Linked DNA regions of Homo sapiens. The protein of the gene in region 2 purifies or fractionates together with the protein of the main gene of each other region. This does not show direct contact. Each region holds a gene or a part of one and is shown on either strand. Other genes may lie near its edges.

The links.
Region 1: the proteins of SMAD5 (region 2) and TAF12 purify together in Homo sapiens (affinity purification with mass spectrometry, with the first as the bait; one large-scale study listed by BioGRID). This does not show direct contact.

The regions. Positions count from the first base shown.
Region 1 is NC_000001.11:28,636,315-28,640,136, forward strand, and holds part of TAF12 (transcription initiation factor TFIID subunit 12), read right to left. Parts: intron 1-3,822. UniProt on the Homo sapiens protein: The TFIID basal transcription factor complex plays a major role in the initiation of RNA polymerase II (Pol II)-dependent transcription.
Region 2 is NC_000005.10:136,139,218-136,143,039, reverse strand, and holds part of SMAD5 (mothers against decapentaplegic homolog 5), read right to left. Parts: intron 1-3,822. UniProt on the Homo sapiens protein: Transcriptional regulator that plays a role in various cellular processes including embryonic development, cell differentiation, angiogenesis and tissue homeostasis.

The DNA.
Region 1 (3,822 bases), on a different chromosome or scaffold from region 2:
CAAAAAGATCCTGTCTCTAACAACAACAAAAGGTAGTATAGTGTATAGTACAGTGGTCAAGGATATGAACCATGGTAGCAGTATCTGGGTTTAAGTACCAACTGTGCCACTTTTCAGCTGTATTGAGCAAGCTACATAATCTCTTTATGCCTCAATTTTCTCATCTGAAAAAATTAAGTTAATAATGAAGTACAGGGTGGGCTTGGTGGCTCACACCTATAATTCTAGCAGTTTGGCAGGCTGAGCGGGAGGATCACTTGAACCTAGGAGTTTGAGACCAGCCTGGGCAACATAGTGAGATCTGGTCACTACAAATAAAAAAAAAAAAATCAAAAAATTTGCCAGGCGTGGTGGCATGCAGCTGTGGTCCCAGCTACTTGGGAGGTTAAGGCGGGAGGATCACTTGAGCCCAGGAGGTTGATACAGTAGTGAGATGTGATGGCACCACTGCACTCCAACGTGGGTGACAAAGCAAGACCCTGTCTCAGGGAAAAAAAAAAAATCAACATACTGCTCAATGCAGTGGAGCACATGTATAATCCCAGCTACTATGGGGTCTGAGGTGACGGAATGGCTTGAGCCTAGGAGTGCGAGGCTGTAGTACATTGTGATAGGCCTGTGGCTAGCCACCATGCTCCAGCCTGGAAAATAAAGCAAGACCCCATCTCTCAAAAAATACCAGTGTTTCATTTCACTCATCCTGCTGCTAACCCAACACACATATCCATGTGTGCTGGCACCATATAAGTGTTCTGTATGACTTCAGAGATTAACAGAAGAATGGTGGATTGGAAAAAAATGGTAACAAGTGGTCAGCAGGAGGCTGATGAGAGTTACTGTGGAAAACCCAAATCAAGAGGGCTGGATGCCATCTTTGGTCAGTTTCCACATCTGTAATTAGGAGTTGGCCCAGGCAAATTCTTTTTTTCTTTTTCTCTTTTTTGAGACAGAGTTTTGCTCTGTCACCCAGGCTCGAGCGCAGTGGCACGATCTTGGTTCACTGCAACCTCCGCCTCTGGCCAGACCAGGCAAATTCTAAAGTCCCTTTCAGCATTAAAAATCAGTGTAAAGGCCAGGTACAGTGGCTCACGCCTGTAATCCTAGAACTTTGGGAGGCCGAGGCAGGCGGATCACGAGGTCAGGAGTTCAAGACCAGCCTGACCAATATGGTGAAACCCTGTCTCTACTAAAAATACAAAAAATAGCCGGGCATTGTGGCGCGCGCTTATAGTCCCAGCTACTCGGGAGGCTGAGGTAGGAGAAGTGCTTGAACCCGTGAGGCGGAGGTTGCAGTGAGCCGAGATCACACCACTGCACTCCAGCCTGGGCGACAGAGCAAGACTCCGTCTCCAGAAAAAAGATTTTCTTTTTTTTATTTTTGCTCTCTTTACCCTCCCTGTCTGACTTAAATTAAGTCCATACACAGAAATTTCAAAGTCTGTCTGCCTCCAACACACCTGTTTCACAGTGCAGCCTGTAAACATTGCTGATATAGTGCCTACAAAATATTTTAGGGCTTTCCATAAAGAATCCCAACCAAAAGTAGTATGTCTTCGCCAGGTGTCATGGTTCATGCCTACAATCCCAGCACTTCGGGAGGCAGATGTAGGAGGATCACTTGCTGATAGGAGTTTAAGACCAGCCTGGGTAATGCAGTGAGACCCCATTCCTATTTTTTGTTTAATTATTATTATTATTTTTTTGGAGATGGAGTCTCGCTCTGTCGCTCAGGCTGGAGTGCAGTGGCACAATCTCGGCTCACTGCAACCTCTGCCTCCTGGGTTCAAGTGATTCTCCTGCCTCAGCCTCCTGAGTAGCTGGGATTACAGGCGTCTGCCACCACATCCAGCTAATTTTTGTATTTTATTTTATTTTATTTTATTTTATTTTTTGAGACAGAGTCTCACTCTTGTCACCCAGGCTGGAGTGCAAAGGGGCAATCTCAGTTCACCACAACCTCCGCCTCTCAGGTTCAAAGGATTCTCCTGCCTCAGCCTCCCGAGTAGCTGTGATTACAGGCATGCATCACCACGCCCAGCTAATTTTGTATTTTTAGTAGAGATGGGGTTTCTCCATGTTGGTCAGGCTGGTCTCGAACTCCCAACCTCAGGTGATCCGCCCACCTCGGCCTCCCAAAGTGCTGGGATTACAGGCATAAGCCACCGCGCCCGGCCTAATTTTTTTTTTTTTTTTTGAGACAGAGTCTCACTCTGTCACCCAGGCTGGAGTGGCGCAATATCGGCTCACTGCAGCCTCTGCCTCCCGGGTTCCAGCGATTGTCCTGCCTTAGCCTCCCAGGTAGCCGGGATTATAAGCACACGCCACTATGTCCAGCTGATTTTTATATTTTTAGTAGAGACGGGGTTTTACCATGTTGGCCAGGCTGGTCTCGAACTCCTGACCTCAGGTGATCTGCCCACATCAGCCTCCCAAAGTGCTAGGATTACAGGCATGAGCCACCTCACCTGGCCTATTTTTTTTTTTTTTTTTTTTTTGAGACAGAGCCTTGCTCTGTCACCCGGGCTGCAGTGCAGTGGCACAATCTCTGCTCACTGCAAGCTCCACCTCCCGGGTTCACGCCATTCTCCTGCCTCAGCCTCCCAAGTAGCTGCGACTATAGGCGCCCGTGCCCAGCTAATTTTTTTTGTATTGTTAGTAGAGACGGGGTTTCACCGTGGTCTCGATCTCCTGACCTCGTGATCCGCCCACCTCGGCCTCCCAAAGTGCTGGGATTACCGGCGTGAGCCACCACGCCCGGCTGGCCTATTTTAATTTTTTAAGACAGAATCTTGCTCTATTGCCCAGGCTGGAGTGCAGTGGTGTGATCTCGGCTCACTGCAACTTCCACCTCCCACCTTCTGGGAGGCCGAGGCAGGCAGATCATCTGAGGTCAGGAGTTCGAGACAAGCCTGGCCAACATGGTGAAACCCGTCTCTACTAAAAATACAAAAATTAGCCAGGCATGGTGGCGCATGCCTGTAATCCCAGCTACATGGGAGGCTGAGGCAGGAGAATCGCTTGAACCCGGGAGGTGAAAGTTGGAGTGAGCCAAGATTGCACCACTGCTCTCCAGCCTGGGTAACAAGAGTGAAAGAGCGAAACTCCGTCTCACAAAAAAAAAAAAAAAGGTAATATGTCCTTTTGTCCTTTGTTCCTATCGGCTCTAATTATAATGCAATGATTTTCTGATCGGGTATTTTGAAGTCCTATTATAATAAGTCAACGCTAGAGCCACAAATGAAATGAAGTACATTTTGCAAGTATAGGTAAGGATGTTAACTCAGGAATAAATTATCATTAATTAAACCATCAAGTACTTTGAAGTGGTGACATGGGCATCGGTATGCTTTCCCTTATAAGTTGGTATAAGTTAGTTTTGATCATTTATATATAATAGGCGCTTGCAAATAGTACAGGCTAACCCTGGGGAAAAAATAGTAGTTTTAACTAAGCCCAATTCCCCCAAACATCTAGTTCATGATATAATTAACTGGAAAATCAATCAAATTTAAGCCCTTGTTTTTCAAATTACTTTTTTTTTTTTTCAGACAGAGTCTCATTCTGTTGTCCAGGCTGGAGTACAGTGACACAATCTCGGCTCATTGAACCTCCACCTCCAGGATTCAAGTGATTCTCTCCCACCTCAGCCTCCAGAGTAGCTGGGACTACAGGCATGTGCCACCATGCCCAGCTAATTTTTGTATGTTTAGTAGAGACGGGGTTTTGCCATGTTGGCCAGGCGGGTCTCGAACTCCTGATCTCAGGTGACCCGCCCGCCTTGGCCTCCCAAAGTGCTGGGATTACAGGTGTGAGCCATCATGC
Region 2 (3,822 bases):
CATATGAATTGGAGAGATGAATTGTGATATTAGACAGAGGAGACATTTGATTTATTCAAAATTTACCGGGTGCCCACTAGTGTATGTCAGGAATACTCCATGCTAGGAACTCAGGCTTAAAAGACACTAACCATAATCTCTGTAAGATCTTAGAGAGTAATGGAAAAAAGAACAGGGGCTATAAAGAGTTTCATATGCCATTTAGCCTATCACTTAGTTTTATCCTATATTTATTTCCATATGATAGCCAACAGAAATAGGGCATTAAAATTGAGTTTAAAAAAATGTACACCAAGCACAGAGAGCCAATAATTGAACAGACAGGAAGGTATGCTCCTTCTTACACTAGAAACTGGAGGGACTTAACAGCTATGAACCCATTATCTGCTATTATCTTGGCCTTTCATAGTATACCTTTGGTTTATGAAGACTTGACTTGATAATACCCTTTTATTGATGTATTTTGTCATTTCTTAGAGAAATGACCTCAAAGCTAGAAAGAAAACCAAGGTAATCATAATATTTAGAAATTCCTGTGTACGTGAGGTTCCCTGATTCTTCTGAAAAACTGCAACCACTGACTGAACACAGAACGTCATTAGTGTACCAAAAGAGATGCAGTGGTACCTCAGCCATAAATGAAAACCTTATAAAATTACGGTATATCATGAATTACAAATGAATCTATCACATTACAAAACACACACACACCTCACCTCTCTTTCAGCTCAAGCATCCCTTCTTCGGGGAAGTCTTCCCAAACCGTCCTGGCTAGAAGTCCCCCTCTTATATGCTTACCGCATCACATACTCCTACTTTGTAGCACTTACCACACCTATGTTTTTACATTTACCTTTCAAATCTGTCCCCACAAGAATGTAAATTCCACGAGAAGAGCTGTATCTGTTTTCACTCATCACTGTAAGCCTAGTGATACATATGCTCAATAAATATTTGTTTAATGAAAGAAAGGGTTTGTGATATTAGCTCTGGTGGTGGGGTTAGGTGTACTTTTCACTTTCTGCTTCATCTAATTCTATATTTTTTAAAATAAACATATTTCTTGAAGAGTCAGAGGAAAAACAGGTTTCAAAATTAAAGTGCAGCTATACCTCAGCCATATTATGAACCCTTACTAAAGAGAGGATTTACATTATCATGAGTCATTCCTGCTTCAAAACAATTCTCTCTAATATACTTGGGGTTATACAAATTTGGAGGTTGAAACTAAGAAAAATCAAATCAGAAACTAGGTACAAATACTTCCATAACTATAGTACTCTAGGTTAATCAACAGAAATACAGAAATGATTATCATAAGGTACACCTACTTCTTTAAGTATATGTGCATTAACTGACTCAGCAGCTATAACAGCCATGAATCATTAAACACTTATTGAGCACCTACTAACTAGCAGACATTGTAGGACATGCAGGGGTTTATCAGCACTAGCCAAGGGTGAAGGAATAAATGAGAAGGCCTTTTTCTAAGTCCCATACAAAGGTACTATATGAGTGAAGAGTGGGAATAGCAAAAATGCAAACGGGACAGAATCTCCCTTCACAGAATAACGTAGCACGACAGACACCAAACTATACCCCTATATGTAAGTACAATGAGATAAACTCAAGTTACTAGAGGAACACAGAGAGACAGAGAAAGGGCATGTAATCCAGGTATCTAGCACTTTTCACAGTGTGTCCTGTTACTACAAATGAGCTGTTGCTCCTCAAAACAATGAAATCAAACTCCAGAAGCATTATTCCTGCTCCCAATAAATATTAGTAAGAACTCATTCTTCAAAAGCATTTATCTTCCTATACTGGAATGTCTTTTGAACCTCAGATATTACAAATGCCATTTTCTGCTTATACCACTTTTCTTAATCCCTGGCCACTAATTTTTAGCTCTATCGTTATTTAAGTCTCAGCTTTAGCTCTCATCCCAGATACCTTCCCTGATCACCCCATAATCCTATATAGAGTTTCCCTAATCTCTAATCCAATACTATGTTCATTTTCTTCACTGTATTAACTGATTCATAATAATTTGTTCATTTACTTTATTTCTGTCTCTCGCACTAGAATATAATCTTTAAAAAACAGTACCACATACATTACAATAACTTGTCAAATTCATTCAAGTCATTCATCCAAAAGAATATTTATTAAGATAGCATTTTAGGAGCTGGGAATATAGAAGTGAATAAAAGGAACCAAAACACTTGTCTTCATTTAGCTTATATTCCAGCAGAAGGAGGCCAACGAGATATAGTAAATGATATGTTTGTTAGGTGAAAAGTGCTATAGAGAAAAATTAAAACAGGGGAAGGTGGACAAGAAGTCCTGGAAGAGAGGTGTAATTTTAAACAGGGTGGCTGGGCTGGGTCTCACCAAGAAGGTGCCAACTGAGTTAAAATGTTAAGGAAATAAAAGAGTGAGCCAACAGGCATATATCTAGGGGAAAACCATTACAGGTAAAGGCAACAGGCAATGCAAAGATCCTAAGGTAGGAGCATGTCTGGCATGCTTCTGGCATGAAGAGCATATACTGGCTAGAAGACCAGTATAGCCTGAGAACACAGTGTACGAGGGGGAAAAGGTAAGGAGTGGGGTCAAAGAGATACCAGAGAGCCAGAATGGCCATGCTGGATATAAAGGCTTTAGCTTTTACAGTACTCTAAGGAAACTGTGAACTCAGTGGAGAGCTCTGAGCACAGACATGATAGTTCTCGACTTACACTATTAAAGAATTATCCTGGGCCGAGGTGGGCAAATTACCTGAGGTCAGGAGTTCAAGACCAGCCTGGCGAACATGGTGAAACCCCGTCTCTACGAAAAATACAAAAATTAGCTGGGTGTGGTGGCATGTGCCTGTAATTCCAGCTACTTGGGAGGCTGAGGAAGGAGAATTGCTTGAGCCCGGGAGGCAGAGGTTGCAGTGAGCCAAGATCATACCACTGCACTCTAGCCTGGCCAACAAAGCTAGACTTCATCTCAAAAAAAAAAAAAAAAAGAGTTATCCTGGGCCAGGCGTGGTGGCTCATGCCTGTAATCCCAGTACTTTGGAAGGCCAAGGCAGGAGAATCACTTGAGCTCAGCGGTTCAAGCCTAGCCTGGGCAACATAGTTTTTAAAACTCCATCTCTACAAAAAAAAATTGTTTTTAATTAAAAAATTAGCCAGGTGCAGTGGCACATGCCTGTGATCCCATCTACTTAGGAGGCTGAGGTGGGAGGATCACTTGAGCCCAAGAGGTCAAGGTAGCAGTGAGCCAAGATCATGCCACTGCACTCCAGCCTGGGTGACAGCACAAGACTCCGTCTCAAAATAAATAAATAAATCCTGGCTGGTATGTTGAGAATAAGCAGGAGGAGGGGTGGACAGCAATGATAAAAGCAGCGAGACCAGTTCAGAGATGCAGTAATCTAAGGGAGGGGAGAAGATGACGATGGCTTACAACCAGGGTGATAGCAGTGGGGTGGTGAGCAGCAGACATATGAAAGACAGTAAGCTTCCTGATGAAGGAGATCATGGGGTGTATGAGAACAAAGGAGTTAACAATGATTCCAAGGTATCAGCCTGGACAACTGGAAGAATGGGGTTTGACATCAACTGATTTGGCAAATGCAGATAAGAAAGCTAAAGGAAGATTCAGGGTTAAGTTTTATACACATTAACCATATGAATAAAATGTTGCTAAGCTTCACAAAGCTTCTATTTCAAATGAATTCATGTTGAATCAATAACCCAAAGGTCCTGTTCTTACCTAAGGTTATGGAAGTACTACATCCTGACCAACTTTCATAATAAACACACACAC